Regions from separate parts of the Homo sapiens genome. Here region 2 is linked to region 1. The links come from fine-mapping of genetic effects on gene expression. A gene starts in region 1. The other region holds a variant in brackets. All regions are shown on one strand. Distances are from middle to middle.

Region 1 (5,381 bases):
GTGGTGCGCACCTGTAATCCCAGCTACTTGGGAGACTGAGGCAGGAGAATCGCTTGAACCCAGGAGGTGGAGGTTGCAGTGAGCTGAGATTGCAGCCACTGCTCTCCAGCCTGGGTGACAAAGTGAGAATCCGTCTCAAAAAAAAAAAAAAAAAAAAATTGACCCCTCTTTATTAAGGCATATTAGGAAGCTGCCTGCCTGATTTGGCCCAGTGACTTCCCTGCCACTAAATATGTAAGCAGAAGACTAACAGAATTCCAGAATAATTATTTTTGGAGTTATGAGTTACAGGCCTCTAGGAAGAAAAGTATCGTGACTTTTTCCTTCCCTCCGCATTAAACTGGGAGTTAAAAGCATGAGTAGCTACATATGCTTAAAGTCACAGAATAGTTAGTGCCATGTGGTACTTCACAGATGGCATCTCAGCTGATATTCACAACAACCCTGGGGCAACTTGGGGAACCATCATTGCACTGCTAAGAAGCTAAGGTGACTTGTATTAGTCACAGGAAGGAACCCAGACTTGAACTCAGGTCTACTTGGCTCCAGAGCTCTGGGCATTTCCACTTTACCACACTCCTAGGATAATAAGCGTTGGGAGAGACTGGGAGGAAGAACATAAGGGCAGGGGACGTAACTGTTGGAACGTAGGATGCCGAAGTTACTAGTTAATTACCTATTTGAAATGCCCTGAAAACACCTGACTGCAAATCCACTCACAAAGGAAACTGGTGAGGCAGCCCAGAAGATGTACTTGAATGAATATGGATATAATTTTGCTTATTTTACTATGAAATACTACTGTATTAGTCTACTGTGGTTGCTGTAACAAAATATCATAAACTGGGTGGTTTAAAACAACAGAAATTTATTCTTTCACAGTTCTGAGGACCAGTCCAACATCAGTATCATGGGGCTGAAATCAGGGTGTCAGCAGGGCCACACTCCTGGGAGCTTTAGGGGAGAATCCATTTATGCCTCTTCCAGCTGCAGGTGGCTGCTGGCATCTTTTGGCTCGTAGCCGTATTACTCGAATCTCTGCATTCATGGTCTTACTGACTTCTCCTGTCAGTTTCAAATCTCCCTCTGGCTCTCTGTAATAAGGGACCATTATTAAGGGCCCACCTGGATCATCCAGAATTCTCTCCCCATCTTCAGAGCCTTAAATGGAACATATCTGGAAAGACACAATATTTACAGTTCCCAGGGATTAGGATTTGGGATATTTGGGTAGCCACTATTCAGCCTACTACAACCATATTTCTACATTTTCCCTTTTTATTCTATATTACATCATTTATTAGTACAAAAGTAATAGGTGTTTGCTATGAAGAATTAGAATATACAGGTTGGGCATGGTGGCTCCCGCCTGTAATCCCATTACTTTAGGAGGACAACACAGGTGGATCACTGGAGACCAAGAGCTCAAGACCAGCTTGGCCAACATAGCAAAACCCTGTCTCTACTAAAAATACAAAAAATTAGCCATGGTGGTGGCCCACACCTGAAATCCCAGCTACTTGAGAGGCTGAGGCACAAGAATTGCTTGAGCCTGGGAGGCAGAGGTTGCAGTGAGCCAAGATTGAGCCACTGCACTCCACTCCAGCCTGGGCAACAGAACGAGACTCTGTCTCAAATAAATAAATAAATAAATAAATAAACAAATAAAATAAAAAATAAATAAGTTGATAAATAAAATTAGAATATACAGATAAGCCAAAGACAGAAATTTAAAATTGCTTATAATTGTATTCCCCAGCAATAAGCATCATTACTATTTTGGTGGCTGTCTTTGCAGTTTTTTCTCTTGAACATATGTTTATATATAGGTTTCATTACAATTTAAAAATCTAGCTGATAGTGTAGCCCTCAATCTCACTTCAGAGAAACCCACCTCACAAGTTGGGAAACACTGACACTGATGCCCCCTTAGAAAACCCAGGATGTAGACATTTATTTGCCGGGAAACTTTGGTATCCCTCTATGGCAGATAGGCTACTGTCAGAATGCTCTTTTTGAAATAAGAAGTTATGTAACACAAAGACATGTTCCTGGTAGTTTATGCAAAGACAGAGGAAAGAGTATGCAAGAATGTCATCCTCAAGGGAAGTGCAGAGAGATTTCTTCAGTCCTCAGCTGAGTATAAGCTGGCCTCCTGGAGTCTGTGAACACAAACGTCCAATGTGAGTGTGCCTGTGCAAGCCCCTGGCTGTTTATACTCCGGAGGGTGTCCCCGTGCGTCATCGGTGGAGTGGACCAAAACTGGTGATCTGTTTGCCCTGTGTGACCTTGCCCAGAACCCTGCTGACTGAGAGAACACATCTGCTGGAAGTCCTCTGGGATTCAAGGTACAGGGGTAAGCATGACCTTGAATGCAGTAGCAATGTGCTTTAGCCAACTAAGCTGGCTCATTTCATTTACCGCTCTATCTCCCATGGTTAAGCATTAAAAATACATGTTGTGGCTGGGCATGGTGGCTCACGCCTGTAATCCCAGCACTTTGGGAGGCTGAGGCTGGCAGATTGCCTGAGGTCAGGAGTTCGAGACCAGCCTGGCCAACATGGTGAAATTCTGTCTCTACTAAAAATACAAAAATTAGCCGGGCATGGTGGTGCACGCCTGTAGTCTTAGCTACTGGGAGGACTGAGGCGGGAGGAACGCTTGAACCCGGGAGGCAGAGGTTGCAGTGAGCTGAGATTGTGCCACTGCCCTCCAGCTTGGGTGACAGAACAAGACTCTGTCTCAAAAAAAAGAAAAAAGAAAGAAAAAGAAAAAAAATATATGTTGGATGTTCAGAAGACTTTGTTTCATTTTAAGGTATAGAATAAGTAACTCAACAGCAATGAATTCATATGTTGTGAACAAACAGGAAACAAATGAGTAATTCCTTTCTTGACGGAATTTCTAGCTCTTGCATCTTTTACTCTGAAGTTCTACTTCTTCCCCGGCTACTCCTGCCTACACCCATCTTCCCTTTCTGAACTGGTAGTACTTGTGTCCAAACCACTCTTACTGTGCTTTGAAAAAAAAAAAAGGAACTGCTCAGCAGTTCCCCTCTCTGTACACTGTCCTCTCACAGAACAAGAAGGTATCTGGTCTACAAGAACTCGAGGCCTCACTGAAACGGAAAGCAAATACAAAGAAACTTTATTTTAAAAACATGTCTTGGTCTCCCAAGAAGAGGGCAATTGGATTGCTCAGCCAGGTACTGTGGGTAGAGAGAATGGGATTTTTAAGGTCTGGGGCCCAAATATTAAAATCTGGGTTTACATTCATTTAAAGCTTGTGTCTGGGATGTACAAAAGCCTTAACATTGACGAGTGTGATTTGCATGCCTGGCTGGATTTGCCTGCCGAGAAACCTTTAGGGGTGGTTAATCGGGTCTGCTGGGGCTTCATCAGGTTCAAGGGGTACATGTACCCCTTGGACTACTGTGAGATGGAAAGGACTTTGGAAACACTTTTTGGCATTACAGAAAGGAAACTCACTCTTTTTTTTTTTTTTTTTTTGAGACAGAGTCTTGCTCTGTCACCCAGGCTGGACTGCAGTGGCGTGATCTCGGCTCACTGCAACCTCTGCCTCCTGGGTTCAAGCAATTCTCCTGCCTCAGCCTCCCAAGTAGCTGGGATTACAGGCACCCGGCACCGCGCCCCAGCTAATTTTTGTATTTTTAGTAGAGACAGGGTTTCACCATGTTGGCCAGACTGGTCTCAACTCCTGACCTCGTGATCTGCCCACCTCAGCCTCCCAAAGTGCTGGGATTACAGGTGTGAGCCAACGTGCCCGGCCAGGAAACTCACTCTTGTTGCTAAGACTGTTGTTAGAATCACAGATGATCAAAGCTGAAAGGAACGAGGTGGACTACTTAGTCCATCCAATCTCCCAAGTTACTGATGAGAAACCTGATATTTGGAGACAGAAGTGAAGGAAATCACCCTTTACGGGACACCTATTTCGTGATAGGGTCTTTATGTACATTATCTCAGTAGATCCTTGCAGCCTGGCTTTGAGAGGTGGAAAATGTGGTAGAGAGGAGTTAAATGTCCTGCCCTACATCACACTGCTAATTGTCTACAAAACTAGGATAGAACCTGGTCAGCACACTTCTTAACTGTTCACACACTTTTATAATATTAGTCGTATTAATGTGTTTAAAATACCATAGACTGGGTGGCTTAAACAACAGAAATTTATATTCCCACAGTTCTGGAGGCTGCAAGTCCAAGACCAAGGTGTCAGCAGGGTTGGCTTCTCCCCACGCCTCCCTCCTTGGCCTTTTCTCTCTGTATGCACATTCCTGGTATCTCCCTTTGTGTGTCCCGATTTCCTCTTCTCATAACAGCCTCATTTGAGCTTAATGACCTCTTTAAAGGCTCTGTCTGCAAATACAGTCACATTCTGAGGTTCAGGGCTTCAACATATGGATTTGGGGGAAGCCCAGTTCAGCACATAACACTAATATTAACATGTGAGATTGCTGAAGCCTATTAAAGACCTAAGAACATTCTAGTCTAGAGCCTTTTTACTAGAAAGGAAGACAGATAATACCCACTGACCATCTTTGTCACAACTACTTTCATGTTTAATCTTCACAATAGTCCAGGGAGGTGAATATTATGCATGATTTGGAAAGCAAGATTCGGAAAGGCTAAGTAACATGTCTAGGGATACTTACCTCATAAGGTGCAGAGTGAGGATTTGAATTCAGATCTGCAATGCCAAAGCCCACACACATTTTCCATTTCTGTGTGCTTCCTGTCTGCTCCTAATTATATGTACTCTTTCCCTTATTTTATCTGTGAGGTGTGGGAATGACCCCATAGACGTGGGTTATATGGGTCCAGAGAAACTTCAGTTCTCTGAGGAGCTCATGTAACCTTTTTTAAGAAAATGCCAATTTTAGAATTAGTACTAAATATTATTTTCCAGCTGGGCATGGTGGCTTATGCCTGTAATCCCAGCACTTTGGGAGGCCGAGGCAGGCAGATTGCCTATATATATATAATATATATTATTATATTATTTTCCAATGTACAAATGTGGGGGAAGGACTTCTTCCACCCAATTCAGTTATTCACTGGACAGCTTGCGGGGAGGGGTTGCAGGGCCATAGCTACATTCCAAGAGAGTACACTGGTCTCAGTCCTATTCTTTTTTTTTTTTGTCTGAGACAGAGTCTCTCTCTGTCACCCAGGCTGGAGTGCAATGGTGCTATCTTGGCTCACTGAAACCTCCACCTCCTGGGTTCAAGAAACTCTCCTGTCCCAGCTTCCCAAGTAGCTGGGATTACAGGTGTGCACCTCCACGCCTGGCTAATTTCTTGTACTTTTAGCAGAGATGGGGTTTCACCATGTTGGCCAGGCTGGTCTCAAACTCCTGAC
Region 2 (5,309 bases), 39 kb after region 1:
AAGTGTGTGCACTATGCCCAGCTAATTTTTGTATTTTTAGTAGAGACGAGGTTTCATCATGTTGGCCAGGCTGGTCTCAAACTCCCGACCTCAAGTGATCTGCCTGCTTCAGCCTCCCAAAGTGCTGGGCTTACAGGCATGAGCCACCATGCCTGACCAATTTCACCTGCTCTAACAAAACCCTTTGTTAAATGGTATCTTTCAACTTGGATGTTTGAAGCTGAACTCTGCTATCCAGCCTGTTCTCAAAGAGAGCTCATGCCTGTAATCCCAGCACTTCGTGAGGCCAAGGTGGGTGTATCACTTGAGGTCAGGAGTTCAAAACCAGCCTGGCCAACATGGTGAAACCCTGTCTCTACTAAAAATACAAAAATTAGCTGGGCGTAGTGCACATACTTATAATCCCAGCTATACGGGAAGCTGAGTTGGCAGGATCACTTACTTGAGCCAGTGGGGCAGATTGCAGTGAGCTGAGATTGCACCACTGCACTCCTGGGCAACAGAGCCAGAACCTGTCTCAAAAAAAGAAAAAAAAAAAGCCATCGCAGACCCTATTCATGTTCTAGAAGCTCTGTGTTAAATCCTGGGCCCAATCATTCTGCTGTATAGATCCCGCTATCATATTTTATTTTCCAAAAGCTCTTTCTTAGCATCTTATTGTTGCTGAGTAGATGCAGTCTACTGAAAAACTTAGGATCTCTGAAAAACTTAGGTCTTTGGAGTTTGATTTTTCTTGTTTTCTACAGTGCCTGATTTCTTTGGGAGTTGTTTTGGCTTTTAGTCTCAGTCTTCCTTGTGGGAGGCTGTTGTCAAATGTCTGATAATCCTGCACTGTCCTCTTCACATTTTAGAGGGAGACACAAGTTGATAGGGAGTTCTGTGTGTCTAAGGGAGGCGGTGAATTTTTGACAGGCTAACTCCACTAGGGGGTGATTGGGCAAGCAAAATGGCCCCTTCTTTGTAGGGCCTTTTCCCGGGGGGCAGTTCCATTTCTCCTAAGAATCCTCCAGTCTTCCTCCTGGAGCATATAAGCCCAATTGCAAGTGTTCTGGGAACAAAGTGGAGTGGGAAAGCCTATTGCTTTTGTGTGCTCCCAGGGTACCCTGACCTACCATAGCACCCACCACCCATCTAATTACTTTATAATGCATGTCTTCACACTATTTTGTAAGCCCATTTAGACAGGGACCATGTCTGTCGTTTACACATATCCCCAGCACCCAGCATAATCCGCAGCACATAGTAGCACTAAAGATGTTGCTGAATGAATAAACAGTGAGAACTCTGGTACTCGTTCAGGTGAACTACAGGACAACACAAATGAAGAGTTGTGTTTGGGATACAGGAACCCCCAAGAATCAGAACCCTTCTACCCAGGGCATCTGAGATTTTTCCTGGAATTCCAATCAAGCCATTTGCACTCTCCACAGCCCACATACAGCCTATGGCTCTAAATGTCATGGATTCTGTTTCTCTTGGATCTAGTCTGCTCCTCATAACATAAGCACTGCAGATTAAATGAACAAAAGGCATGCCCTTGGCTTATGACAAATGTTGTTTGTTCTTGGTTCCTGCACTAGCACACATTCCAATAATTATCTAAGAAACTCTCTTAAATTGATGATAAGATCCTTATACCTTAGTAGATAACCACTATAAATTGCTCACCCTGTGAGGGTGGAATGGGCTTTAAATTCTTCTTAAATTCCTTTTAGGTGGTGAAAATATGTTCTGCTAGCTGAGAAGGAGAAAAAAAGTTGATCTTTGGGGAAAGAGCCTTAAATAGACACACAACTGGCAACCAGCATTTGGACTGAGTGCATGCCATGCTGGGAAGCATATGGAGAAGGGGCAAAGGCAGAAAGGACATGAACATGAGATGGAAGAGAGAGCAGGGAGAAAGCCATCCTCCAAGGAACAGAGGAGGTGGAAGGCAGGGGAAAGTAAGGACCTAGGTACTATTTGGGCTGGGCATAGGCTACGCTGTGATAACAGAGACCCAACTATACCATGGCTTACAGAAGGCAGAACTTGATTCTCTATCATGTAACAGTCCAGAAATGAGCAGTCCAGGCAGGTGGGGTGGTTTTCCTCTGTGCAGTCTTTCAGGCCCAGACCCCTACTTTTTTTTTTTACTCCTCTATTCCTTAAGAGTGTTATTTTTGACTTTATGGCCATAGCTAGGTCACTGCCCTGTGATCATTTCAACCTAGTAGAAGAGGGGAAAAGCGGAAAAGTGACATGGAAGTTGCACACATCACTTCTGCCTATACTTCCTTGGCAAAAATTTAGCCACACCTAATAGCAAGGGAGGTTGGGATATGAGTGGCCATATGCCGAAATAAAACTCTATTAACTATGGAATAAGGAGAGACAGTTTTGGGAACAACTAGCAGTCTGTCTCACTTTTCTTCTCTTTTTTTTTTTGAAATGGAGTTTCACTCGTTACCCAGGCTGGAGTGCAATGGTGTGATCTCTGCTCACCGCAACCTCTGCCTCCTGGGTTCAAGTGATCCTCCTGCCTCAGCCTCCCGAATAGCTGGGATTACAGGCATGCACCACCACGCCTGGCTAATTCTGTATTTTTACTAGAGACGGGGTTTCTCCATGTTGGTCAGGCTGGTCTCAAACTCCTGACCTCAGGTGATCTGCCCGCCTTGGCCTCCCAAAGTGCTGGGATTATAGGCATGAGCCACCGCACCCGGCCTCTGTCTCACTTTTCAAATTAATAAAAGTGGCAAAGAAGGCCCAAAGATGGTGTCAGTGACACTGACCATGGGTAAGAGACATGAAGGCAGAACCCTGTGAATCATCTCCTTACCTGGCTTTGCCCACTTTAGCCGCTAGCATCTTGACCACGGTCAGGCAGGGCCAATCACTTTAGGTGTCTGTAAAGAAGAACCTGAAGACCTTTCGAAACTCAAGACC[T/C]TATGATGGTGATAAAAGCATTGGCTGACATTGACTAAGGACACACTCTAGAATGTACTTAGTTGCACTGAACAAACTACACAAGGCCATGCAGTGACATCAGACACCAAATTCACAGATCTCCTCTCACTACGGAGCTGGTAAACACCTTTACTGAAAGTGGGTAAGGGTATAGTTTCAGTGCATAACTAGGTTGACCTCACCCACGTAAGCTGGTCGGACAAGACTGTCCATTTCTGTCATTAAGCCCTCATTACTGGTAGCAGATACCTTTTAGTCTTTGCTTGCTAACCTTAAGGTTGTACAGCACCGAATCTTTCCTTCTTTAACTTGAACTCTTTAGTGGTCTTCTCACTGAGACAATGGAAAGGAACTTTTAAAACCTCTTTTCCTACTTGGAATCCAAACTGAATCATGGACCTTCATTTCCATAAGGGTCAGTTTCTGGAACATTATCTAATATTACACATCTCCCAAGAAACACAAGTTTAATATACAACAAATTAACCCTCCAAAGTTGGGTGAGGTACACTAAGACTAAGATGAGCTCGGATGAGCCGAGTAATGTGGATTGATAAACCAGGCATACATCTTCTGCATTTTGTGTGTGATACTCTGGAGTATAAACATGTAAGTAAGAGTTCCCATGTCCAGTCTGCCTGTCTGTCCACTCTGTACTTCAAGGTGAACTTAGTCATCCAGAAAGGGCCAGGTAGGTGGGTAGGGCTAACGCTTTGCACAATTTAATATGTGTAATTAACACAGAGCTAGTTTTGTGAAATCCTAATGTTGTATACTGGCCAATCTGTATGATGGTAAATAACCTGAAAGAAAGGTATTTTTTCTTATTGCAAGACTCACTTGGGTTCCAGTACCACCTAAACTGGTAACATGGGATAAAGAATGAACACTAAACTATTTGTGTATGTATACACACACACACACACACACACACACACACACACACATCCTTTGTATGTATGTGTGTGTGTGTGCATTCTTTGTGTATCAGAAAGACAGGATATCCACCTACCCTATGTAGGAAATACTTTAGGTGCCCTATTCTGTAAGGAATGGAGGAACTTCCTGAAGAGGCTCGGGAGGGTTATACATAAACAGGTAAACAAAAACACCCAAATCTTTAGATACTGAAGGAGGCTCACTTACTCAAGTTTACAGTTAGGAACATACCCATAGAAACAACAGTTAGGTGGTGTTTACTTTTTCAGAAGAGGAAACGACTTAATATTGCCAAAGATTGACTCCAGTTTTGAAAACAAGTACTGAATATTTAATTAAAGCAACCTTCCATTTCCTAGGAGTAAGGAAAAGGGGAAAAAAAAGTAATTCATTTACATATTGTTGCTACCTCACTACGAATCACTATTTATCAGATTCCCTTATACTCTAGGAAAATATAATAGACCATATTCACAATCACTGCCCTAGCTATAGAGAATTATATTAATAATTTCTTTCTGAGGCAAAGCACTGGTTCAAACATGGCCATTTCAGAGTGAAAAAAAAGTATGTAAAATAAATGTAGAACCTATTTCTCTTTTTTTTTAAAAAAAATTTTTCTTCCAACTAATATACTTATTTCTTTACCCAGGTGCATTTTTTGGAAAGAACCCTCTGAAAAACTTCCAGCAGTTGAATTTGGCGGGAAATCGTGTGAGCAGTGATGGATGGCTTGCCTTCATGGGTGTATTTGAGAATCTTAAGCAATTAGTGTTTTTTGACTTTAGTACTAAAGAATTTCTACCTGATCCAGCATTAGTCAGAAAACTTAGCCAAGTGTTATCCAAGTTAACTTTTCTGCAAGAAGCTAGGCTTGTTGGGTGGCAATTTGATGATGATGATCTCAGTGTTATTACAGGTGCTTTTAAACTAGTAACTGCTTAAATAAAGTGTACTCGAAGCCAGTAAGTGCTCTGGGACCTCATTATTTTAAGCCTGGTAGTTAAAAAAAATCTTGCAAAAGGATGCCAAAGAAGATAAGGACGTGGAAAGAAGTTTAATTTGATGATTAAAAACATGCAACAGTTTTGTGTCTTAGCTCTCCTACTAGGATTATCGGCGCCTTGAAGGAATTCTCATTCATCTTTGTGTTACCTTTGGTCTGGGTCACACCAACTGGTATACTGAATGCATATTAACTTAGTATAGTGCCTGGCATGTAAGAGATTCTCAACAATATTCTCAATAAATATTCGCTGAATATGAGATAAATTATTAATAGCTACTGAATAAAGAAAGATTATTTAAAACCAGAGAGGAAACTCCATATATGTTCTTTAATCCAAACAGTTTAATTCAAGCAATCTGGAATATAAAAAGCACTTTCTGATATTAGAAGGAGATCAGACTCCCAAAAAAGA

Direction of the effects. Alleles are on the strand shown, and positions count from the first base shown. SD is a standard deviation of normalised expression in the study named.
In carriers of allele C in region 2, the expression in cerebral cortex of the gene that starts at base 3,057 in region 1 tends to be higher than with T alone (small effect, 0.38 SD a copy in GTEx).

The links. PIP is the estimated chance that this variant, and not a neighbour inherited with it, causes the effect. A credible set is the group of variants that fine-mapping cannot tell apart.
Region 2: its variant is the best candidate, but not a certain one, in a credible set for the expression of NLRC4 in cerebral cortex (GTEx, PIP 0.85).

What each region holds. Positions count from the first base shown.
Region 1 is chr2:32,262,562-32,267,942 of GRCh38, reverse strand. It overlaps NLRC4 (NLR family CARD domain containing 4), which reads left to right and starts at 3,057. Exons shown (of 9, transcript NM_001199138.2): 1 at 3,057-3,205.
Region 2 is chr2:32,223,997-32,229,305 of GRCh38, reverse strand. SLC30A6 (solute carrier family 30 member 6) reads right to left here. Exons shown (of 14, transcript NM_017964.5): 14 at 4,927-5,309. It overlaps NLRC4 (NLR family CARD domain containing 4), which reads left to right. Exons shown (of 9, transcript NM_001199138.2): 9 at 4,541-4,853. The coding sequence ends at 4,833. Among named protein-coding and RNA genes, the nearest start is that of NLRC4, 38 kb to the left of the region's middle. The variant T/C (reference allele first, on the strand shown) is at 2,929.